Linked DNA regions of Homo sapiens: all the other regions are reported to be linked to region 1. The links are microRNA targets in miRTarBase. Many come from high-throughput screens and were not tested one by one. Region 1 holds a microRNA gene; each other region holds the end of a gene's coding sequence.

Evidence for each region. The annotated mature microRNA hsa-miR-455-3p reads GCAGUCCAUGGGCAUAUACAC and lies in region 1 at 1,623-1,643, opposite strand. An mRNA with a match to its seed (bases 2 to 7 or 8) in the 3' UTR can be bound and repressed. Matches are read on the target gene's strand: a 7mer-m8 pairs with bases 2 to 8, a 7mer-A1 pairs with bases 2 to 7 and ends in A, and an 8mer does both.
Region 2: the mRNA of MRPS14 is a reported target of hsa-miR-455-3p. The part of its 3' UTR that is shown has no 7-base or 8-base seed match.
Region 3: the mRNA of HYOU1 is a reported target of hsa-miR-455-3p. The part of its 3' UTR that is shown has no 7-base or 8-base seed match.
Region 4: miRTarBase lists GM2A as a target of hsa-miR-455-3p. The part of its 3' UTR that is shown has no 7-base or 8-base seed match.
Region 5: the mRNA of PFAS is a reported target of hsa-miR-455-3p. The part of its 3' UTR that is shown has no 7-base or 8-base seed match.
Region 6: miRTarBase lists RAB19 as a target of hsa-miR-455-3p. The part of its 3' UTR that is shown has no 7-base or 8-base seed match.

Annotation. Positions count from the first base shown.
Region 1 is chr9:114,207,025-114,211,129 of GRCh38, reverse strand. It overlaps MIR455 (microRNA 455), which reads right to left and starts at 1,696; the gene lies at 1,601-1,696. It overlaps COL27A1 (collagen type XXVII alpha 1 chain), which reads right to left. Exons shown (of 61, transcript NM_032888.4): 11 at 1,402-1,455; 12 at 104-148.
Region 2 is chr1:175,011,347-175,015,451 of GRCh38, forward strand. It overlaps MRPS14 (mitochondrial ribosomal protein S14), which reads right to left. Exons shown (of 3, transcript NM_022100.3): 3 at 1,612-3,505. The coding sequence ends at 3,323. It overlaps CACYBP (calcyclin binding protein), which reads left to right. Exons shown (of 6, transcript NM_014412.3): 6 at 1-681. Among named protein-coding and RNA genes, the nearest start is that of MRPS14, 10 kb to the right of the region's middle. RefSeq lists a silencer at 1,313-1,513.
Region 3 is chr11:119,041,899-119,046,003 of GRCh38, reverse strand. It overlaps HYOU1 (hypoxia up-regulated 1), which reads left to right. Exons shown (of 26, transcript NM_006389.5): 25 at 173-223; 26 at 350-1,816. The coding sequence ends at 411. It overlaps HYOU1-AS1 (HYOU1 antisense RNA 1), which reads right to left and starts at 1,816. Exons shown (of 2, transcript NR_186315.1): 1 at 1,259-1,816; 2 at 511-619.
Region 4 is chr5:151,266,960-151,271,064 of GRCh38, forward strand. It overlaps GM2A (ganglioside GM2 activator), which reads left to right. Exons shown (of 4, transcript NM_000405.5): 4 at 337-3,481. The coding sequence ends at 492. Among named protein-coding and RNA genes, the nearest start is that of GM2A, 16 kb to the left of the region's middle.
Region 5 is chr17:8,268,453-8,272,557 of GRCh38, forward strand. It overlaps PFAS (phosphoribosylformylglycinamidine synthase), which reads left to right. Exons shown (of 28, transcript NM_012393.3): 27 at 81-404; 28 at 502-2,034. The coding sequence ends at 812. Among named protein-coding and RNA genes, the nearest start is that of RANGRF, 18 kb to the right of the region's middle.
Region 6 is chr7:140,425,772-140,429,771 of GRCh38, reverse strand. It overlaps RAB19 (RAB19, member RAS oncogene family), which reads right to left. Exons shown (of 4, transcript NM_001008749.3): 4 at 1,798-3,890. The coding sequence ends at 3,622. Among named protein-coding and RNA genes, the nearest start is that of RAB19, 24 kb to the right of the region's middle.

The sequences.
Region 1 (4,105 bases):
GGGAGAAGCAGAAGATGCCAGGCAGCAGGTGGCCAGGGCAGCGTGGCCGTGGGAGGTGGGGTTCCCCGCTAGAGTCTGCGTAATAGACACGGAAAATCTTTACCGGCATACCCATCTTGCCCCTCTTGCCAGGAACGCCAGGCAGGCCCTGCAGGGGAGAGACAGGGGAGAGGTCAGGGCAGGATGCCAGCAGGGACAGCCAGGCTTGCCCCAAACCAGCCCAGAGCCACCCACGGCAGGAAGTCACAGAGGGCCTGGAATGTGTGCCACTTGCGTGGCGGCCCCAGTGACATGCACATCAGACGGATGGCAGGGTCGGGGTCTGTGGTGACCTAAGAGACAGAGAAATGCCAGTTCCTGTAATCAGCAGGTGCTTCATAAATGCTCAGGCTCCAGCTGTCCTAAGGTTCTCTATACCCAGCTTATGGAGGTTACAAGTGAGTTCCCATAGATACGGGCTCAGGTTGGGAGGGGGCGGGGAGGAAGATCCCGAGGCCACCACCCCAGGGGCTTCTAATGGACCTCCAGGCTGGGCCAGGGGTCTGTGAGAAGCTCCCACACCATCTTTTGGACTCCTCTGACTTAGATACTTGGTCTGGAAGGACAGGGTGTCTTAGGAAATCTTAGCACCCACTGCCCACCACCAAACCAGTCCCACCACCTTCCCCAGACAGCCGCTCCCCCTGGCTGCTGGAACTCCTGCCACCTGCTCTTGCTGTCCCCACCCCCAACCAACACATTTTACTCAAGTAAACCAACTGATCTGTCTAAAAGAGGAATCAGCAGATGGTTTCTGGAAAGGGGCAGATAGTGAATATCTTTGGCTCTGTGGGCCATACGGTCTCTGTCACACCTACTCAACTCTGCCATTGTAGTGAGAAAGCGGCATTGACAATATGTAACCAAATGAGCAAGGCTGAGTTCAATAAAACTGTTTGCAAAAACAGACAACTGGCTGGATTTGGCCCATGGGCCACCGTTTGCAGACCCCTGATCTATATTATAAAGTGGGCCCGGTGTTCATTGGTTGCAAGTCCTCAAGAGGCTCCGCATACCCTCAGAACAGAGTTCCTTTTCTAACCTTAGTCCTGGGCACCTAAGACATTGCCCCAGGGTCCTCTCCAGCCTCAACTCCCACCACTCTCACCCTCTCACGCAGCACTTTGGCAGTGTTGAGTGTTAAACTCGCCAAGTTACCGTAAATCCCTGACTTCGCACATGCTGTTCCCTATGCCTGGAATGCATCTGCCTTGACTTGTCCCCTTATCAGACTCCTACTCGACTCAAGTGCACCTCCTCCAGGAGGAATTCCTTGACTTCCCCAGGCTGGTGCCTGGCAGGTTCTGCTCTGTTTGGGCAGGGGTGGCTGTGGATGGTGAATAACCAAAGAAGCAAACTTACTCGTTCTCCATCAGACCCTGGCAGGCCGAAGAGCCCTGGGAGCCCAATGTAGCCCTAGGAAAGAGAAGAAAGGGGGTCAGAGCGGTCAAGCAGTGAGGTGTGGCTGGCCCAACCTGCCGCAGCCCACCCACCACTGCCATCCCACATCCCGGCTCCTCCTCTTCCTCCCTGGTGGCAGTGGCAGCTCCGGTGGCTCCTCGATGACATAGGCCTTGAGGCAAGTGTATATGCCCATGGACTGCATGGTGCTGGCTTCCACGATGTAGTCCAAAGGCACATACCCTCACGCCAGGGAAGGGCGCAGGCGCTCGCCGGCAGGAGGCCCGCCCCACGCCAGGGCTCCAGGACCTGCAGAAGGAAGCTCGCGGCTGGGTTAGATGCTAGCACGGCACCAAGCCCTGCCCACCCCCAGGGATGCTGGTAGGTGCCCGTGGCTCCTGCCATGGCTCCTCCTAGGCCTTCAAGGTCCTGGATGTAGGGCTTACATCCACCTCTGGCCGCCTGAGTGCTGGCATTAACTAACAGCGGCTGCGAACCCGGAGTGCCAACATTGTGCCAGGCACATGCATGCTACCACATTAGACTCTCACAAGGACCCCCCAGATTGTCACCACCCACACTGGACAGACAAAGAAACTGAGGCTCTGTAGATAAAGCAACACGACTAGTCAGTAGTGGAGCTGTGAATTCTCTTCGGGAATTCCTAATCAGTTCAAGGGTCACCCAGGGCCAGCTGACTCCACAGCTGGGGCTCGTCACCATTCTGGGGCTCTTCCCTAGGATGCATCTCATTTCCTCCCTCCCAGCCTTTCCTCACTCTGTCCCCTCCACCAGGCATGTCCTTCCCATCCCTCATGACTTCTGAGCCAAATCCTTCAAAGCCCAGCTCTCATAAGCGCTCTCCTTGGGCAAGCATCCCTGATACCCCAAGCCGGAAGCAATCTCTCCCCCCCATCCCCAGTGCCATTTTTGCACCTCGGTAGCATCCTTCTCCACTTTCTCCCTTGTATCTTCATTATTTGTGTTCATGCTTCACGTCCTCATTAGCCTGGGAACTTCTAAAGGGCAGTAACCTCGCCCGGGGCTTCTACCACTATCTGCGTGCCACTCTTGGTGGAATGATTTAATAATAACTCTAACAAAAGCTAATGTTTATTGAGCACGAATGATAGGCCAGGCCTGCTGCCAGTGCTTTGCATATATTAAAGCATTTATTCCATCCTTATCACACCCCGAGGAAGTATTATATTTTATTATTTTTTTATTTATATATATTTTTTGAGACGGAGTCTTGCTCTGTCATCCAGGCTGGAGTGCAGTGGTGCGATCGTGGCTTACTGCAACCTCTGCTTACCGGGTTCAAGCGATTCTCCTGCCTCAGTCTCCTGAATAGCTGATCACAGGTGATCACAGGTGTGCACCACCACGCCCAGCTAATTTTTGTAGTTACTTTAGTAGAGACGGGGTTTCGCTATGTTGACCAGGCTGGTCTCGAACTCCTGGCCTCAGGTGATCCACCCGCCTTGGCCTCCCAAAATGCTGGGATTACAGGCACGAGCCACCGCGCCCAGCCCTGAGGAAGTATTATTACTCAGCCCCCTGTAGAGGTAAGACCATTTAGGCCCAGAGGGGTGAAGCAACTTGCCTAGGACCAAACAGCTGAAATGTGGTAGAACTGGTATTCAAATTCAAGTCTTCTGACTCCTGGGCCTGGGCTCCTAACCACTCTGCATACTGCCTCTCCTCAAACAAGCAACCAATGGAGGCTCACAACCATCTCTCCTTCCCTGGAAGGCCAAGAAGCCACTGAGCCTCCTCGTTGGCATCCAGCATGATTAATATCCATAATCTGAAAGAGTGCCATTTACTGCCATTCCAAATAGTGCTTATCTCCCAGATTTACAGGTGAGAAAATAATTGGCTCAGAGAGGCCCAGTGACTTGCCCAAGCTCCCACAGCTAGCTAATGGCAGGGCAGGTCTCAAAGCCTGTCATCCTGATTCCAAAGCCTGCCCTCTGCCTACTTCAGAAATATGAGGCTGGTGGTGGCAGGGTTGGAAGGGCAGCTTGAGTGACTCACTGCTCATCCAGGCTTCCCACCCAGGGCTGTGTGGCCTGTAAGAGACAGGAGTGCTGGGGCCAGACCAGTCCTCTCCTGCTATGTGACTTTGAGATGCCACCAGCCTGGCAGGCAAGTCGAGCAACCCCAGATGTCATTAACATGCCTGTCCTTCTGGCAGGTCAGGAGATCAGGACTGGGGCTGGACTGAGAAGACCTTTCTCCTTGGGTTTAGGGGGTCCCTCTGGGGGAATGGCCCATGGGAGCAGCAGAATAAAGGAAGAGAGGCACAGCACCCTGGGACAAGAGCCTCCTTAGGCCCTGCCTGTCACAGTAACCTCCTGGGGAATGCACCTCCCCGCCCCCACTCCCGCCTCCCCACACTCTCCTAACAGCCACCAGTCAGCTGCAGGGATTAGGGCTGAGACTGCAACTGTTCTGTCCTCTCCCTCCTGCCAAAATATAAATAGCTTTGGCTCAGGAGCAAAGGATACGTGATCTGTCCTGACCGAGGACTGTGTGACCCCCTTCCTGAGCATTCCTTGAGAGGCAGCAAGTCCAGGCCTCGGAAGACTTGGGTCCCCATCCCAGATCCGCCTTAGGCGTGCAGTGTAAGCTGGGGCCATCCAGGCCCCGCCATGAACCC
Region 2 (4,105 bases), not on the chromosome of region 1:
AGTGGGGTAAAGATGGGTTTTTAATGATACTAAGATAACTGAAAATAGGCATATAGATATATTCCAAGCCGCCTGACGATCTAATTGTAAAAAGTAAAGCATACAAATACTAGAAGAAAATGGAGGAAAACGACATTATATGTGACTTAAAACCTAGAAGAAATAAATAAAACTATTGATCAATTTTAACTACATAAAAATGTTTATAGGACAAGAAAAACCCCACCATAACCCAAGGCAAACAATGTATTGACAGGATTCCAATAATTAAGAATACTTCATACAAAAAGAAATGTAAATGACCTTTAACATGTAAAGATGCTCACCTTGTTCAGAAGAGAATAAACCAGTGTTTTTACCTTTCACTTGAAAAAGAAGTATAAAAACAACTGTATTGAGTTGAGGCTGTGGAGAAATAAGGACACATATATGGGAATGGAATGCAAAAGTTAAACTTTGGTTAACAAGAATATTTGGGCAGGTGCAGTGGCTCACACCTGTAATCCCAACACCTTGGGAGGCCAAGGTGGGCGGATCACTTGAGGTCAGGAGTTCAAGACCATCTGGCCAACATGGTGAAACCCTGTCTCTACTGAAAATAAAAAAAACTAGCTGGGCATGGTGGCAGATGCCTGTAACTCCAGCTACTCGGGAGACTGAAGGACAAGAATCACTTGAACCTGGGAAGCCGAGGGACGAGAATCACTGGAACCCGGGAGGCAGAGGTTGCAGTGAGCTGAGATTGTGCCACTGCACTCCAGCCTGGGTGACAGAGTAAGACTCTTGTCTCAGAAAGAGTATTTGGTAATAACCATCAGAATGACATATTCATTTATCCTTTGACCCAGAATTTTAACTTCTTTCTGGGCTCTGAAAGGTACATTTAGAAAAATTTGGAATGCTATATGCAAAAGATTAAAAATACTCGTGTCTATTTAACAGGAATGTATTATGGTGCATCCACATGAGGGAGTACTTAAGTCACAAAACAATGAAGAGTTCTATATAACGTAAAATGGTCTCCAGGATAGAGTAAGTGGAAAAGCAAAGTGCAGAACATTTATGGTATACCCACTACATTTGTGTAAGAAAGGGTGAGAAATGTGAATGTATGCACATAGGTGTATTTGCTTATGTTTCAAAAAGAAACGAGTAAACCCAAAGCTAATAAAAATTGTTAGCAGGGGAAGGAAGGAGATGAGGATGGAAGCTATTCTGTGAATTTAACTTTTTCTAGAGTTTTGACTTTAGAACCATCTAAAATTTAACATGACTGAAAAAGTAAAACATGACCCTAAACCTATCAACACATTGTCTTAGTCTATTCCTGCTGCTGTAACAAAATGCCATAGACTAAGAATTTATAAATAATATTTACTTCTTGCACTTCTGGAGGCTGGAGAAGTCTAAGATTTGGCACCAGCAGATTGGTGTTTGGTAAGGGCTTGCTTTCTGCTTCCAGTACGGTGCCTTCTCGCAGTATCAGAAGGGTAAAAGGGACAAACTCTCTCCCTCAAGCCCTCTTAGAAAGGCACTGATCCCATCCATGAGTGTGGAGCCCTCCTGGCCTAATCACCCCTAAGGGCCCCACCTCTTAATAATACCAACGCATTGTGGATTAGATTTTAATGTGAATTTTGGAAGTACACAAAATGTTCAAACTATAGCATGTATATATATCAAGTTGGCAGTATAAACTACTTGCAAGTAACTTTAGAACACAAGTGTTTGCCCATTGGTAGTGAGATGGATTCTAAGTTGAGATATTAGCTAGAACATTCCAGTTGGTAAGTTGTCATACATATTTAAGAAATATGAATCCAAACTAGATTGTGATAATTCCCTCATAACTTCACCTCCACCTGAGTTTCGGACTCTGCTATCCAGCTGCGTACTAGTCTTCATCAGATGACACAGGCATCTCCAACACCGCATGACTGGAACCTGAACTCGCTTATCTTCTGTTTCCCCTAAATTTGTTCTTTTTCCAAATTTTCTATCTTGGAGTTGCCCTCTTGGAATTGCCCTCTACCATCTATCTAGACACTTTTATCAGGAACCCAGAGAACCATCTTTACCTCTTAGATATAATCAGTCTTGTAAGTCTTGCCCAATTTTCTTTCCTAAAACTTTAAAAATCTGTCCTCTCTCCTCTACTAATACCACAATGTTAGTTCAGGCCTTCATCTTCCTCAACAACTAAGACATCCTCCTAACTGGTTGTCTTGCCTGTAGCTTTTTCCTCTCATGGCCATCTGCCACACAGCTGTCACTTACCTGTATTACAAACTGATGATGTCATTCCTGTGCTTAAAACTCTGTAATACCTGGTATGTCAGTCTTAATTCCTTCACATGATTTGTGAGATCCTCCACAATACGGGCCTTGTCTTGTGCTTCATATTTCTGATCTACTGAAGTGACTGTGGTTCTCTGATGCTACAGAGTGCCTTTGCTTCTTTGTGCTTTTGTTCCCTCTGTGTGCAGAAAAAAATCTCACCCCTCACCTCCTGATTTATTAAGTTCTCCAGGAATATTTTCCTGATGTTAAGTAGGTACTTCCATTCAGTATGTATATTTTTATCACTGGGCTGATGATCACACTGTTGAGTTACTGAATGAGAACTTTGTGCTACCCTTACTCATTTCTGTTATGGATTAAATAAACATAAAAATAGGGAATATATACTGTTCCAACAAACTTTTCCTCTTTAGATGGAGACTTTCAAGGACTTAAAGAGGCATAATTTGTTTTAAAGTCCCTTAAGGATGGACAAGAAAACACTTAGTGGTTCTTTTGTTCAGCCATCACAAGAAGAAGTGGAGCATTAGATAATCCAGAACAGCAGCCTTGCTATCCAATCTGTTTATCTAACAATAATAGTTAAGGGGAGCTCTGCAGGTCAGCAAAGCTAGTCCAGGATTACAAACTGCCATACATGAGCTACATGTCAATTAGTTGGATTATGTATAAGATAGCATTTTATGAAATAATGCTCTTAATACAAAAACCCCTATATGTTACTAAAAGATTAAACTTAAAAGGAGGGTATAAAAAACATTCACAGAAAATATTTATTATGCTACTCTTTGTACTATGTATGGGAACAGTATGTTTGTTAAGTCCAAGAGAAAAGATAATTCACTGACATGAAACACCCAAATGTCTTCATTTTAAAAGTAGTTTAGAGATAGCATCAGGTAGGCCAAACAACTGTACTGGGCCCCTGTAGAGATTAGGGTTTGGTCTATTAAAAAAAATCTTTGCTTGCTGGAACTGCAAGCTTGGCTTCCCTGCAAGCTCAATAGGTTCTGGAGCTCATTTACCATGTCGCTCGCTGGATCCCAGAAAGTTGCCCATGGTCAGCTAAGTGACGGAAGACTATACGACTAAGCCTCCAGCGCCGCTTCACACCACGCGGACGGGACGTCATAACACACCGATTTCTGATTCTAACAGGACAGCTATCCCGGGGGAGGGCAGCAATTTCTTCATCAGCCACATCCTAAGGGAAATCACATTATTACACAGATCACATTACATTGTTGCACATGTATTTTGCTCCTTCTCACTTGCAGGTAATTTTCTTTTCTTTTTTTTTTTTTTTTGAGACAGAGTCTCGCTCTGTCACCCAGGCTGTGGGTGTTAGATTGTGCAATGTCACAATCTCAGCTCACTGCAACCTCCGCCTCCTGGGTTCAAGTGATTCTCCTGCCTCAGCCTCCCGAGTAGCTGAGATTACAGGTGTGCACTACCACACTCAGCTAATTTTTTGTATTATTAGTAGAAACGGGGTTTCACCACGTTGCCCAGGCTGGTCTCAAACTCCTGAGCTCTGGCAATCCGCCCATCTCTGCCTCCCAAAGTGCTAGGATTACAGGTGTGAGCCACAGCGCCTGGCCACTGGCAGGTAATGTTCATTGCATGAGTACCATAATTCATTTATCCATCCTACATTTGATGGTCATCTTACGATTTGGGCGAATATAAATAGTGCAGCTACATACTCTTGTTTAACTCATTTGTAAAGTATGTGAATGTATTTCTGTTGCCGCCTCATGTTTTTTGAATCACGAAAGTGAAACCTCTGGAATGATGATCAAAT
Region 3 (4,105 bases), not on the chromosome of region 1:
CAGCCTGGGCAACAGAGACTCTGTCTCAAAAAACAGAGTAGGCAAAGAGACCAAATGTGGTACATGCATCCTAAAATATTTACTAGCTGGCTCTTCATGGAAAAACTGGCCCAGCCTTCCCTTAGCCTCTTCCTCCCTTCTGAGGAGACTAACCTGTTTCTTCCCAAAGCAGGATCCGAGCCAGGAGACACTGAGCCTTTGGAGTTAGGAGGTCCTGGAGCAGGTGAGGATGGAGCCGGGGCTACGGTGGGAAGCCTGGTGGGGTCTCAGGAAATCCTTTGCAAAGAACTGGGGTTGGTTCCTCTGTTTCACCTGCGGTGATTCCTTTGCTCCCCCAAACTCCCAACAGAACCTGAACAGAAAGAACAATCGACAGGACAGAAGCGGCCTTTGAAGAACGACGAACTATAACCCCCACCTCTGTTTTCCCCATTCATCTCCACCCCCTTCCCCCACCACTTCTATTTATTTAACATCGAGGGTTGGGGGAGGGGTTGGTCCTGCCCTCGGCTGGAGTTCCTTTCTCACCCCTGTGATTTGGAGGTGTGGAGAAGGGGAAGGGAGGGACAGCTCACTGGTTCCTTCTGCAGTACCTCTGTGGTTAAAAATGGAAACTGTTCTCCTCCCCAGCCCCACTCCCTGTTCCCTACCCATATAGGCCCTAAATTTGGGAAAAATCACTATTAATTTCTGAATCCTTTGCCTGTGGGTAGGAAGAGAATGGCTGCCAGTGGCTGATGGGTCCCGGTGATGGGAAGGGTATCAGGTTGCTGGGGAGTTTCCACTCTTCTCTGGTGATTGTTCCTTCCCTCCCTTCCTCTCCCACCATGCGATGAGCATCCTTTCAGGCCAGTGTCTGCAGAGCCTCAGTTACCAGGTTTGGTTTCTGAGTGCCTATCTGTGCTCTTTCCTCCCTCTGCGGGCTTCTCTTGCTCTGAGCCTCCCTTCCCCATTCCCATCCAGCTCCTTTCCCCCTGGGTTTCCTTGGCTTCCTGCAGCAAATTGGGCAGTTCTCTGCCCCTTGCCTAAAAGCCTGTACCTCTGGATTGGCGGAAGTAAATCTGGAAGGATTCTCACTCGTATTTCCCACCCCTAGTGGCCAGAGGAGGGAGGGGCACAGTGAAGAAGGGAGCCCACCACCTCTCCGAAGAGGAAAGCCACGTAGAGTGGTTGGCATGGGGTGCCAGCATCGTGCAAGCTCTGTCATAATCTGCATCTTCCCAGCAGCCTGGTACCCCAGGTTCCTGTAACTCCCTGCCTCCTCCTCTCTTCTGCTGTTCTGCTCCTCCCAGACAGAGCCTTTCCCTCACCCCCTGACCCCCTGGGCTGACCAAAATGTGCTTTCTACTGTGAGTCCCTATCCCAAGATCCTGGGGAAAGGAGAGACCATGGTGTGAATGTAGAGATGCCACCTCCCTCTCTCTGAGGCAGGCCTGTGGATGAAGGAGGAGGGTCAGGGCTGGCCTTCCTCTGTGCATCACTCTGCTAGGTTGGGGGCCCCCGACCCACCATACCTACGCCTAGGGAGCCCGTCCTCCAGTATTCCGTCTGTAGCAGGAGCTAGGGCTGCTGCCTCAGCTCCAAGACAAGAATGAACCTGGCTGTGTCAGTCATTTTGTCTTTTCCTTTTTTTTTTTTTTTTGCCACATTGGCAGAGATGGGACCTAAGGGTCCCACCCCTCACCCCACCCCCACCTCTTCTGTATGTTTGAATTCTTTCAGTAGCTGTTGATGCTGGTTGGACAGGTTTGAGTCAAATTGTACTTTGCTCCATTGTTAATTGAGAAACTGTTTCAATAAAATATTCTTTTCTACAGTTTTTGTGCTGTGAGTTTTTAAAAATAGAAAAATTTTGGGCCAGGCATGGTGGCTCATACCTGTCATCTTAACATTTTGGGAGGCCAAGATGGGAGGATAGCTTGAGGTCGGACCAGCCTGGGCAACAGCAAGACTCTGTCTCAAAAAAAAAAAAAAAAAGTATCTGAGTGTGGGGATGTGTGCCTGTAGACCCAGCTACTTGGGAGACTGAGGCTGGAGGGTGGGTCCCTTGGGCCCAGGACTTCGAGGCTTCAGTGAGCTATGATCGTGCCACTGCACTCCAGCATGTGTGACAGTGAAAACCTCAAAAAGTTTGAATAATTACATCATCAAAATGTTATTGACACTTTGGACTTAGTTGAGATTTGTATATGTATTTTTTTCAAGGAAACAAAATACTGGTTTTATTTTACTGCTAACATTATTTGGACTCCTATATCCCAGGCATTTTTAAGTAACGTACTTTTTTTTTTTTTTTTTCTTTGAGACTGGGTCCTGCTCTGTTGCCCAGGCTGGAGTATAGTAATGCGATCCAGGCTCACTGCAACCTCCGCCTCCCGGGTTCAAGTGATTCTACTGCCCCAGCCTCCTGAGTAGCTGGGATTACAGGCACCTGCCACCATACCCAGCTAAATTTTTTTTGTATTTTAGTAGAGACGGGGTTTCACCATGTTGGCTAAGCTGGTCTGGAACTGACCTGAAGCGATCCACCTGCCTTGGGCTCCCAAAGTGCTGGGTTTACAGGCCTGAGCCACTGGGCCCAGCTGGTAACATTAATTTTTAAAATAGCAACCTCATTGTACAAATAAGATACCAGTTCATAGAGATTTAGCAAGTAATTGGTCCAAGGAATGAATCAATGTTGAGTGCTTCAGCTAGGTTTGAGCTTAATTCTGACCATTCGCCCTTGTTCTTCGTACTTAGCCGTGGGAATGTGTTGGTAGAGACCATTTGTAGCAGTTTCGGTTCATCAGTTTGGGATGCAGCATGCCTAGCCCAAATTTTCTATTACCAAGGGAGGATCCCTCTTGTCACTAATCATGTACATATCTAAGCAGTTGTATACGGTATACAGGGTGTTGCTCTGTCACCCAGGCTGGAGTGCAATGGTGCCATCTTGGCCCACTGCAGCCGCGACCTCCCAGGCTCAAGCAATCCTCCCACCTCAGCCCTGTAGCAGGGACTACCTGGCTAATTTTTGTATTTTCTGGTCGAGACGGGGTTTCACTATGTTGCTCAGGCTGGTCTTGAACTCCTGGACTCAAATGATCTGCTTGCCTTGGCCTCCCAAAGTGCTGGGATTACAGGTATGAGCCACTGAGCTTGGCCCCGTTGTATTTACATTTAATAACCATGAAGGCCCAGCCGGGTGTAGTAGCTCACGCCTGTAGTCCTAGCACTTTGGGAGGCCAAGGCAGGCGGATCATGAGGTCAGGAGATCCGAGACCATCCTGGCTAACACAGTGAAACTCCGTCTCTACTAAAAATACAAAAAATCAGCCGGACATGGTGGCACCCGCCTGTAGTCCCAGCTACTCAGGAGGCTGAGACAGGAAAATCAATTGAACCCGGGAGGATGAGGTTGCAGTGAGCTGAGATCGTGCCACTGCACTCCAGCCTGGGCGACAGCTAGACTCTGTCACACACAAAAAAAATAACCACGAAGGGTTGTCTTTTTTCTCTAAAAGTTGAACAAGTCAGATAAGTTTTGAATGTGGAAGTTTTGGGTTTTTGTTTTTTTTTTTTTGGATGACTTTTAGACAGTTTCAGATTCACAGCAGAATTGAGCAGGAGGTACAGAGTTGCCATATACCTCCTGTCCCCACATACTCAATCTCCCCCAGAGTGGTACATTTGTTACAATCACCCAAAGTTCTGTATGACACCATAATGGTGGGTACATATACATTTGTCAAAACCTATAGAATGTGCAACACCAAGACAACTGAAAGTGTAGACTTTGGGCAAATATGATGAGTCAGTGTAGGTTCCTCAGATGTAACACCTGTAGACCTCTGGTGTGAAGTGTTTATTATGGGGGAAGCTGTGAGTGTATGGAGGAAGGGAATATACGGGAACTCTGTATTTTCCCCTCAATTTTGCTGTGAACCTAAAAGTGCTCTAAAAAAAAAAGGCGAAGCTAAGTGCAGTGACTCATGGCTGTAATACCAGTGTTTGGGGAGGCAGGAGTGGAAGGATCGCTTGAGGCCAGGAGTTTGAGACAACATAGCCAGACCTCATCTCTACAAAAAATAGTAGTCCTAGCTACTCAGGAGGCAGAGGCAGG
Region 4 (4,105 bases), not on the chromosome of region 1:
TGGGGTTTGGAGAGAAGGGTCTTTGCATTCTCCTTCTGCAGATCTGCATGTCTCTGGATTTGTAAGCCAGTGTGACCTATCAGGAATCACTTATCTTCCGGGAGCCTCAGTTATCCATCTACGAAATGGGAGACTTGAACTTAGATGTGATCTTCAGGGCCCTTTATCCATAATAATCCATGCTCTACAGTGCTATGGCCGTCTCTCATCTTGTGCGGCTGTTTTGAGAATGGGAAGAGGGGTGGTAGTTCATGGCTGCAATCCTAGCAGTGGCTCTAGGAGAAAGACCCCATCAGTAGGCTCCCACTGACTGGCGGTCCACTGGCTTTCCCGCAGGGAACCTACTCACTGCCCAAGAGCGAATTCGTTGTGCCTGACCTGGAGCTGCCCAGTTGGCTCACCACCGGGAACTACCGCATAGAGAGCGTCCTGAGCAGCAGTGGGAAGCGTCTGGGCTGCATCAAGATCGCTGCCTCTCTAAAGGGCATATAACATGGCATCTGCCACAGCAGAATGGAGCGGTGTGAGGAAGGTCCCTTTTCCTCTGTTTTGTGTTTGCCAAGGCCAAACTCCCACTCTCTGCCCCCCTTTAATCCCCTTTCTACAGTGAGTCCACTACCCTCACTGAAAATCATTTTGTACCACTTACATTTTAGGCTGGGGCAAGCAGCCCTGACCTAAGGGAGAATGAGTTGGACAGTTCTTGATAGCCCAGGGCATCTGCTGGGCTGACCACGTTACTCATCCCCGTTAACATTCTCTCTAAAGAGCCTCGTTCATTTCCAAAGCAGTTAAGGAATGGGAACCAGAGTGTTTTAGGACCTGAAGAATCTTTATGACTCTCTCTCTTTCACTCTTTTTTTTTTTTGTCACTAAGTTAAAAGCGAAGTGAGAGTATTAACGTTTTTGTTCTCCTCCGGCCCCCTGTTACAATGAAGGGGCAAAAGTATTTGCTCTTAGTCTATTCCTCCCTTAACTTCTGTGACTAATTTTTATTTCCTTTCTAGATTTGCCCAATTAATACTAGGGTGCAGTGTATCCTGGAGAGGTAGGGTGTGTGGGGGAGGAATCCCTTGGGGGAGATATTAGGAGTGCTCTGTTGTTTACAAACTCAGGTACCCGCAGGGCCTAGCAAGAGACTTAAATGACTGATAAGAACCGTGAGAAACATGTTGCTTCCAGGCTTGATTTCGATTTTTCGCTTTTTTTTTTTTTGAGACAGAATCTCACTTTGTCACCAGGCTGGAGTGCAGTGGTGCAATCTCACCTCACTGCAACCTCCGCCTCCTGGGTTCAAGCAATTCTCCTGCCTCAGCCTCCCAAGTAGCTTGGACTACAGGCCCTGCCACCACGCCCGGCTAATTTGTGTATTTTTAGTAGAGATGGGGTTTCACCATGTTGGCCAGGATGGTCTCGATCTCTTGACCTCGTGATCTGTCCACCTTGGCCTTGCAAAGCGCTGGATTACAGGCATGAGCCACTACACCCAGCCGATTTTTCCTTTTTGATTAAAGATGCTATTACAATGTAAATATTTCTTACACAGAAAGTCACAGCACATGTGCCCATTGATACAAGGCTGCTGAGGCCTGGTCTCCAGTTGGAAATATAATTAAGGGTGGCAAGGACTGGAGTCAGTTGGAGAGTGCATAGCCAGTCTGTGAAGACAACTGCCAGATACTGGCAATACTCCAGCCTGGTGACAGAGTGAGACTCTGTCTCAAAAAAAAAGTTTCAATGTTTACTCCTAGAGAAGCCAAAAATCCAGATTTGTATATGAAATCTTACCATTTTAAAAGATTGGCAGCTAATTATTTTTTTAAAAAGCTGTGCAGTGTGATGTGTCCCAAACGGACTGGCTCATGGGTGGCCACGTCACAACCTCTGATCTCAGACCGTGCATGCCTTGTCCTCTTAAGACAACTCCTGTGGCACCGTTTCTCCCTCCACAGGGCCAAAGCCATAGTGTCCGGTCCCAAGGACAAGGCTCTTCCAGTGCTAGGAGAGGTATGAGCAGCCTCTCACCTGTGAGCTGTGGGGATCACAAGGCTGCCTGCCTCAGTCTTGGAGTCCTGTTGGGTGAATGAGGCAGATGGGAAAGAGCCTCACCAGCAGCTGCTTTTGGAGCAGGGGTCCAAGGAAGAGAGGGTGGCCTCGACATCAAACTGCCTGGATTTTTCTACCACCCTGTTACATCATAACAACTTCTGAAACACACACCAGCCCTGAGTTCTGGGCTCATTTGAAGCCTGGAATAGCAATAAATCTTTTTAACTTGCGGACAGTTTCCCCTTGCCTTGGCTGCATATTTCACTGATCACATCTCAGGATTTCAAAAGCATTTTTGGGGTGGGGCTCTTTTGGTTGGAAGGGTTTGTTGGAACGGTACAGGTGAGCCGAGGTGATTCCAGGGACGGACCCTTCTGCAGGAGCTTGAGCTTGCTTGTTGTCTCTGCTTCATCGCCATCCAGCTCCCTTGTTTGCTATTTTGCTTTCCATCACATCATGACTGCGGAGAGCAAAAATCACCTAGTGACCATTGAACAGGTCCCAGAGACAAAATCTTTTTATCTGAGGAATTTAAAAGGGAGCAAAGACCACCTGGTGACTATCAGGCCATGCAGAGGCAAAACGCCTTATTTGGGGAAAATTAAAAGTAATTAGACTTTCCTATTATCTAAAGCAGGCATCTGGTTCCAGATTTCTTTTCCCCGAAAAAAACCTTAGAAGTAACTAAAATTTCTGTACATCTCCGGAATGCCATGCTGAAACTCACTGCAACCCCACGGTCCCGCTTTAAGGTCCATAAATATCCCTAAGGAAAAATCCACCGTGGTACATTCAGTCCTCTCACCGAGGTGCCCCATGGCAGTCTTCTGCAGCATTCTTCTAATACCTTTCCTTTTTCAAACCTATACTGTTGTTGGTGAATTCTTTTTACCAACCCACGAGTTGACCACTTCCCAATGCCGGGGATCTGACACCTCACCTGGCAATGACCTCCACAGCCGTTTCCCTCTGTTGGATCTTCCAGCCTTATTCTCAACAGTTCATTTTTAGTTCACATTCTTGACCGAATCTCAGTAGCTCAGTTAATCTTTTTATGTCTGCTCTGCTCTTGGGTCATATGTTCCGTGAGGTTTCTTAGGGGTGGGGGATGAGGAGTTAAAGGTGGCATCTTCAATCGCAGGTCAAAGCAGACTTTAATAAATGGTGCTGAGCCAACTGGAAAGCCCCTTGGAGAAAGTTGAAGTTAGACCTGTACTTCACACCATATGCAAGAATGAACTCCATCTGGATCCAGGATCCAAATGTAAGAAAATGAAGCCATATAAATACAGAAGGAAACGTGGTGGAAATATCCAGTGGCAACAAAATATTGACACATTTGACTACATGAAGATAATAAAAATGCTTAGTAAAAACACAATAAAATCAAATGACTGGGAGAAAAATTTATCCAGCCTATATAATAGACAAACAGTTAGTGTTCTTACTATATAAGGAATTAAAAATTAAGGGACAAAGGACCAAAAACTTGATAGAAAAACTGGGAAAAGACATGAACATACTCACGTAAAGATATAAAAATGGCTCTTTAAAATGAAATATTCAAACTAACTCATTAGAGAAATGTAAATTGAGATAATACTGAGATACCATTTATCATCTCTAAGACTGGTGAAAGAAAGAACAACACATTTCTGTTAGGCAAGGCTATAGGGAAACACACTGTCATCACTGTTGGTAGGAATGCAAACTGGTATGACTTCTGGAGGGGAATTTGTCAGTACTTAACAAATTGCAGAAGCATTTACCCTTTGACACAACCATTTCCACTGTGGGAATTTCCCTTGAAGATGCACCTCCAACAGTACAAACATACAGATGCACAAGATTACTCATTGCAGCACTGAGACTGCAAATATTGGAAGCAAAGTCATGTTCATATACACGAGAAAGCCTGAGTAAACCATGGCACCAATGGCATACCCACATGATGGAATATTATTGAGCTATAAAAAAAATGAGGAAGATCTCTATGAATCGGTATAGTTATTTTCAAGATATATTAAATGCAAAAAGCAAAGTACAAAAAGTAGAA
Region 5 (4,105 bases), not on the chromosome of region 1:
GAGCAGTTATGCCCCTTCATTCCCAATTCCCTTTTTTGAGGTCCTCCATGTCTCACCCTGACTTCCCTATTCCCTGCTAGGGTGGGCAGCTGCTGTGACCTTTCATCCCAGGGCTGGGGCTGAGCTGAGGCGCTTCCGGAAGCGGCCAGACACCTTCAGCCTGGGCGTGTGTAATGGCTGTCAACTGCTGGCTCTGCTCGGCTGGGTGGGAGGCGACCCCAATGAGGATGCTGCAGAGATGGGCCCTGACTCCCAGCCAGCCCGGCCAGGCCTTCTGCTACGCCACAACCTGTCTGGGCGCTACGAGTCTCGCTGGGCCAGCGTGCGTGTGGGGCCTGGGCCAGCCCTGATGCTGCGAGGGATGGAGGGCGCCGTGCTGCCCGTGTGGAGTGCGCACGGGGAAGGTCAGGCCCAAGGAAGGCTGGGGGAGGGCCCGAGGGTTGGGGGCAAGGGTGGGCATGAAGGACCTTGGCTCTCACTTCCCTCCTCCTTCCATCCCAGGTTACGTAGCATTTTCTTCTCCGGAACTCCAAGCTCAGATTGAGGCCAGGGGCTTGGCTCCACTGCACTGGGCTGATGATGACGGGAACCCCACAGAGCAGTACCCTCTGAATCCCAATGGGTCCCCAGGGGGCGTGGCTGGCATCTGCTCCTGTGATGGCCGCCACCTGGCTGTCATGCCTCACCCTGAGCGGGCCGTTAGGCCTTGGCAGTGGGCATGGCGACCCCCTCCATTTGATACTCTGACCACCTCCCCCTGGCTCCAGCTCTTTATCAATGCCCGAAACTGGACCCTGGAAGGGAGCTGCTGACTGGCCACAGGGGCTCACCTGGGCCCCATGGCTTTTCACCTAAGTGGGTCCTGCCCCCTCCCCCATGACCTTCAGGAGCACCCCATATTATTTCCAAAAATATCTTGGACAGACAAGGACCAAAATGCCAAAATCTCAGCGGACTCGATAATCTGCCTGCTGATGTTCCTTCTGTGGCTGTGTCTATTTTCAGTTCTGCTCTAACATGGCATGCCCTTTCTCAGCCCAGGAAACAGCATGTGGTTCAGAGAAAAGAGCGACAAGGAAAAGTTAGGACTCCTGAGGTCCGAACAGGGGCTTCTGTTGCCCACTTCACAACACCCAGTGATCACCGGTGTGCAATTGCCTCCTTGGCTCTGAGGGATGTTTTGCGCTCCCTTTTCTCATCATTGGGGTTAGCGGGTGCAGACAAATTCAGCAATAGTATGCAGATCAGCCCCTCACCACCTCATTGTTCTCATCTGGAACTGAAACTTTCTGGATTTCTCTTGAAGTGCTACACTGCACTGAATGTAAGGAATTGTTGCTTGTGGAAGTTTCTCAGCGTTTCTGGCTGTCTTAGGGCTGGCCTCAGAACCCAGCATTCCTGTTATTTGCTTCTAAATTAGCAGCTCTCTTTTTTTTTTTTTTTTTGAGGCAGTCTCACTCTGTCACCCAGGCTGGAGTACAATGGCGTGATCTCGGCCCACTGCAACCTCTGCCTCCTGGGTTCAAGCAATTTTCCTGCCTCAGCCTCCCGAGTAGCTGGGAGTACAGGCACACACCACCACACCCAGCTAATTTTTGTATTTTTAGTAGAGATAGGGTTTCACCATGTCTCCCAGGCTGGTCTCAAACTCCTAACCTCAAGTGATTCGCCTGCCTCGGCCTCCCAAAGTGCTGGGATTACAGGTGGGAGCCACTACAGCTGGCCCAGCAGCTCTGTTTCTGATAGAGGTGGTTGGGGCTCTCATCCCTAGATCCTAACCCTTTAGTATGCTGGAATTCTACTCTTCACTTACTGCATTGACTGTTGTTGATTAGTTATTATTGCAAAGCACTGTCACCGGCCTCAGGGAGTTTATGTGTAATAGAATTAAAAATAATAGCTGTGTATAACACTTAGCTCAAGCCACGCATGTGTGAGGCATTTGGTATGTATCTGAATTAATTCTCACTAAAATTCAGCAAAGGACTTGATAGCCCCTCCCCGCCTTTTCAATAAAGGATGAATGAAGGTTGACTGCATTGCCTGGGGTCCACAGATGGTGAGGGGGGCTGGGCGCACCCATACTACATCTGCTTCCCGCCATCCTGCAGTCTTACTTCCTGGAGGCAGTGTGTTGAGACTTTGTGCTGGCAGCTGTCTGTTGCTTCCTTTGCTCACAGGACTGTGGATAGAGGTCCCTTCCTCATGACTGTTCTGTTGTACACCTCAAGTCAGTTGGCTCCCTAGAATGTTCAACATCTTGATAAAAGGAGTTTGCCTGAGAATGGAGACTATAATCCCAGATCCCTGAGGGCTAGGAGAGCTGGGTGGGGGCGCTGAGCACTTCTGTGTGCTCCTGGTAGAGTAGCCACCCTGAGAAAAAACTGATAATAATGAAACAATGTTAAATGATGGCTATGGGGAAAACAACTATTTCAGAGATTTTTCTCATTGCTTTGCAAAGCGACCTACCCTGAGCAGTATGGGACTCCTCCGGATCATTTTTGACATTTGAATGTTCTTTCCTGACCCTTGGAAAGGATATATGTATGTCTTTCAAATTTATAGTATCGAACATACAATTTGGGGGCTGGTACCAAGGGTTAGATATTAAGTTTATTAAGTGCTTGATGCAAAAGTCAAAGGATGGCATGGGAGGTAACCTGGTTGGCTGTGATAAGTAAACTCGTGGATTTTGAAGGGGGAGCAGTTTCTGGTTTGGGTCGCAGTGGCCAAGTAAGACCCACCCTCCTCAGACACTATCAAGACCAAGTCCACTGGCTTTTCATCCGTGTTTTCATCCAGTAACCAAATAACCCTGTCCTTGCTGACCCCCACCCAGCTCCATTCCCACTCACCCACTCCCAAGGGCCCTCTGGTGAACCTTCCAGGCTAGCTCTCTGCTCCCTCCTTGCCTTCATGGAAAACCAGCTATCCTCTGAGAGCCACTTCTGCAGCCCCTCCAAGTGGTGGCTTTTCTTCTCAAACCTCAACCTCACATATCTCATCTTCCCCAGGCTGGGGAGTCGGGGTCCTCGTACCACTGCCAGACTGTTCACCCAGTTCAAAGAAAACCCTGCCCGTTGCAGGCTCATGCCATTCTACTACATCCCTTTCATCCAGTTCTTTGTGTTCTACTGACTTCCCCAGCGCTTCCTTTGGGAGAAGGTGCCAATTCTTCAATAGTTGATTCCTCTCTAGAAATACAATGTTCCTGCCAGGTGCGGTGGCTCATGCCTGTAATTCCAACACTTTGGGAGGCCAAGGCTGGTAGATCACCTGAGTTTGAGACCAGCCTGGCCAACATGGTGAACCCCGTCTCTACTAAAAATACAAAAATTAGCTGGGTGTGGTGGTGTGTGCCAATAATCCCAGCTTCTCGGGAGGCTGAGGCAGAAGAATCGCTTGAACCCAGGAGGCGGAGGTTGCAGTGAGCCGAGATCACGCCACTGCACTTCAGCCTGGGCAACAGAGTCTGTCCCAAAAAAAAAAAAAAAAAGAAAAAGAAAGAAAGAAATAGAATGTTCCAGGGCCGGGCGTGGTGGCTCACACCTGTAATCCCAGCACTTTGGGAGGCCGAGGTGGGCAGATCATGAGGTCAGGAGATCGAGACCATCTTGGCTAACACAGTGAAACCCCGTCTCTACTAAAAGTACAAAAAAAATTAGCCAGGCGAGGTGGCGGGCGCCTGTAGTCCCAGCTACTCGGGAGGCTGAGGCAGGAGAATGGCGTGAACCCGGGAGGCGGAGCTTGCAGTGAGCGGACGTTGCGCCACTGCACTCCAGCCTGGGCGACAGAGTGAGACTGTGTCTCAAAAAAAAAAAAAAGAAATAGAATGTTCCAGTATTTTAGCTGGGGTTGTGGCTGCTGAAAATAAAGATGACATCTCCCAGCTTCCCTCCCAGTTATGATTAAATTGTGGCCAATGGTAGAGAAAATGATGTATACAATTTGCAAGTGTTCTTACAAGAAGGGTACATTTTCCCCTTTATCCATTCTTGCTTCCTATTGTTTGGAATGCAGACACGACAGCTGGAAGTTCAGTAGCCATACTGAAGTAGCTTTGGGAATTGGTACCATGCAGAGCAACAAGATAAGAGGAAGG
Region 6 (4,000 bases), not on the chromosome of region 1:
TGCCCGCCCTGAGTCGGCTCTGGGACACACACTGAACAGATTGATGGATCCATTCCTCAAGAATAGACTAATCAACAAAGAATGAAAACTCTGTCGCAAGACAAGAAATTTCTAAAAGGCACCTTAACTGAGAAAAATTAAGAGTGCTTCCTGATGATGGTGGAGAACCGGGAGGAGGCTTGTGCTTCGTAGGTCTCCTAGCTTTGCTCTTCTTCTCTGTGGTTGGCTTAGTTTATGGATATATTCCGAAGGTCAGAATTTAAATTCTGGCTCCTACCTAAGGACTCCTTGCAGACCAAGAAATGTATAAAGGAGCAGGAGAATAACTTAAGGCCAAGGAGAAGACCAGTCCAGGGAAAGAGCCCTAAAGACTGCCTTCCTCTCACTGAAAGGCAGATAGGCTGTGATTGGGGCCCTGATACCCAGATGCTAAGAGTGGAGCAGGGGGCTGGGCGCGGTGGCTCACACCTGTAATCCCAGCACTTTGGGAGGCCGAGGCGGGCGGATCACCTGAGGTCGGGAGTTCGGGACCAGCCTGACCAACATGGAGAAACCCTGTCTCTACTAAAAATACAAAATTGGCCAGGCGTGTTGGCACATGCCTGTAATCCCAGCTACTCAGGAGACTGAGGCAGGAGAATCGCTTGAACCCAGGAGGTGGAGGTTGTGGTGAGCCACGATCGCACCATTGCACTCCAGCCTGGGCAACAAGAACGAAACTCTGTCTCAAAAAAAAAAAAAGGGCTGGGCACGGTGGCTCACGCCTGTAATCCCAGCACTTTGGGAAGCCAAGGGGGGAGGATCACAAAGTCAGGAGATCGAGACCATCCTGGCTAACACGGTGAAACCCCGTCTCTATTAAAAATACAGAAAATTAGCTGGGTGTGGTGGCATGCGCCTGTAGTCCCAGCTACTCAGGAGGCTGAGGCAGGAGAATCGCTTGAACCTGGGAGGTGGAGGTTGCAGTGAGCTGAGATGACACCACTGCACTCTAACTTGGGCAACAGAGTGAGACGCTGCCTCAAAAAAAAAAAAAAAAAATGTGGCGCAGGGAAAGGGGGAACTGAGAGCTACTGCTGGATGAGAGGATGCCAGGAAGTCCAAGGGTGTTAAGAGGAGCAGCAGGCCAGGTGCAGTGGCTCAAGCCTGTAATTCCAGCACTTTGGGAGGCTGAGGCAGGTGGATCACCTGAGGTCAGGAGTTCAAGACCAGCCTGACCAACATGGTGAAACCCTGTCTCTACTAAAAATACAAAAATTATCCAGGTGTGGTGGTATACCCCCGTAATCCCAGCTACTCGGGAGGCTGAGGCAGGAGAATCACTTGAACCTGGGAGGTGGAGGTTGCAGTGAGCCAAGATCACACCATTGCACTCCAGCCTGGGTGACAGAGCGAGACTCCGTCTCAAAAAAAAAGAGGAGCAGCAGAATGCGGCTGGTACCTCTTTTCCCCTCCACTGGCATCACAAACCAAAGGGACCATTTGCTTTCCCCAGACCTCACACAACTTCTGGCCATGAGAAGCAGCTCAGTAAATGTCAGCTGCAATCATAAGTGGTGTTTGTCCTCCGGAAGCCCCAGGTGAGTGTCCACAGTTCCCTGGGACCCTGGAGGGGCTCCGTGGCCTGCTCCTGCTGCCTGCCCTGATGTCCCCTAACACAGTCCTGGAAACGAGGGGTGCCTGGTGACTTCCAGCCTCCTCTTACGTGTTTAGTTCTGAAAGCCGCAGTTACTCCATCCCAGAAGGCACCAGCTGCTCTCTGGCCATATCTTACAGAAGGGGCAGTACAACACTGGCTTGATATTCATCTATGAACCAATTTAATTTTAATTTAAAAATGACTTCTGATCTGGCAGATGATTTGGGTTCTAGAAAGAAATTGTGCCAGGCATGGTGGCTCATGCCTGTAATCCCAGCACTTTGGGAGGCTGAGGTGGGAGAAACCTGTGAGCTCAGGAATTGGAGACCAGCCTGGGCAACGTAGCAAGACTTCATTTCTACAATAATAATAATAAAAAAAGGCCAGGTGCGGTGGTTCACACCTGTAATCCCAGCACTTTGGGAGGCCACGAGACAGGTGGATCATGAGGTCAGGAGTTCGAGACCAGCCTGGCCAACGTGGTGAAACCCTGCCTCTACTAAAAACACAAAAATTAGCTAGGCGTGGTGGCGGGAGGCTGTAATCCCAGCTACTAGGGAGGTTGAGGCAGGAGAATCACTTGAATCTGGAAGGCAGAAGTTGCAGTGAGCCGAGGTCACACCATTGCACTCCAGCCTGGGCAACAAGAGCGAAACTCTGTCTCAAAAAAAAAAAAAAAAGGGCCGGGCATGGTGGCTCATGCCTGTAATCCCAGCACTTTAGGAGGCCGAGACGGGTGGATCATGAGGTCAGGAGTTCAAGACCAGCCTGACCAACGTAGTGAAACCCAGTCTCTACTAAATATACAAAAAAAATGAGCTGGGCGTGGTAGTGAGTGCCAGTAGTCCCAGCTACTTGGGAGGCTGAGGCAGGAGAATTGCTTGAACCCAGGAGGTGGAGGTTGAGGTTGCAGTGAGCCGAGATCATGCCACTGCATTCCAGCCTGAGTGACAGAGTGAGACTCAGTCTCAAAAAAAAAAAAAAAAAAAAAGAACAGGCATGGTGGCTCATGCCTGTAATCCCAGCACTTTGGGAAGCCAAGGTGGGCAGATCACCTGAGCTCAGGAGTTCAAGATCAGCCTGAGCAACATGGTGAAACCTTGTCTCTACAAAAAATACAAAAATTAGCCAGGAGTGGTGGCGTGTGTCTGTAGTCCCAGCCACTTGGGAGACTGAGGTGGGAGAACCTCTTGAACCCAGGAGGTAGAGGTTGCAGTGAGCCAAGATCCCACCACTATACTCCAGCTTGGGTGACAGAGTATGACCCTGTCTCAAAAAAAAAAAAAAAAAAAAGAAAGAAAAAAAATTGCAGGTGTCTTCCCCTATCCCAAGAGGGTGGCCAAGTCAGCCCTGCTAGAATAGAGTGAATTCCAGTTCCATCTCTATCAGACAGTTCCTGACCATTTGGCAAGATGGTACTTCTGGTATTTCTGCTAAAAGGCTTCGCTCCCCAAAGTGAAGACCTGAGGTGTGAATGTCAGGAACAAAATGATAGCAGCATTCTGGTTTCTCATTGCAGGCTTTCGTTCCATTCTCCCTGCCTGAGCTGTTTCAAACTGTTCCAGAATGTTCCAAACAGCCTCTTCTCTCTCTTGCTGTTTTGCCTTCCTCCTTTCCTTCACTACCCTCTTCTTCAAGCAAGAAACAAAATTCAGTAGAAAGCAGCAGAAGCTCTAGGGAGACAGAAAAGTGAAAGGGGAGAAGAGTACACTTCGTCCTCCCTCTCCTAGCCTGAAGTCCTGCCTTCTCCAGGAGTCAAGAGTCAGTGAAAACAATGGTGCTGGTTTTCCTGAGAGTCAGCAGCTATGACCTGTGGTGTGAGTCAAGGGAGAAGTGTGGCCCATCCAGACTGGGAGGATTAGGGGTGAGCGGCAAGTCCACGCTGGGGTCTAAAGCGCCACTGGGGCAACACTACGGTATCCTGGCTACCTTTGGTTTCAGAGGCGGCCTCTTTGGTGGGTGCAACTGGCTTTGCAAACATCTTAGCAAGTGCAGTGGGTCTTTTCACTTGGACCCTGGGCCATAAGAACGGGGCTGGAGTCCAGGGGGAGGCCGTTCAGGGCACTCTCCCCATATAGGTGCAGGCTGTTGCGCGCGATCAGCTCCTTGGCCATGAGCACGAAGACTTCTTCTATGTTCTTTGACTCCTTGGCAGATGTCTCCAAAACGGCCAGGAGGCCGTACTTCTCAGCCAGTGTGCAGGCATCCTCGAACAGGACGTGCCGCTTTTCCCAGAGGTCACATTTATTTCCTGGAAGGAAAAGATAAGCCGATATTCCATTGAGTAACTTAATCTGGTTTCTTTCAAAATGAACTTTACAAGTAACATTTTAGTTCTTCAATAGGCATGCATGCATTCAT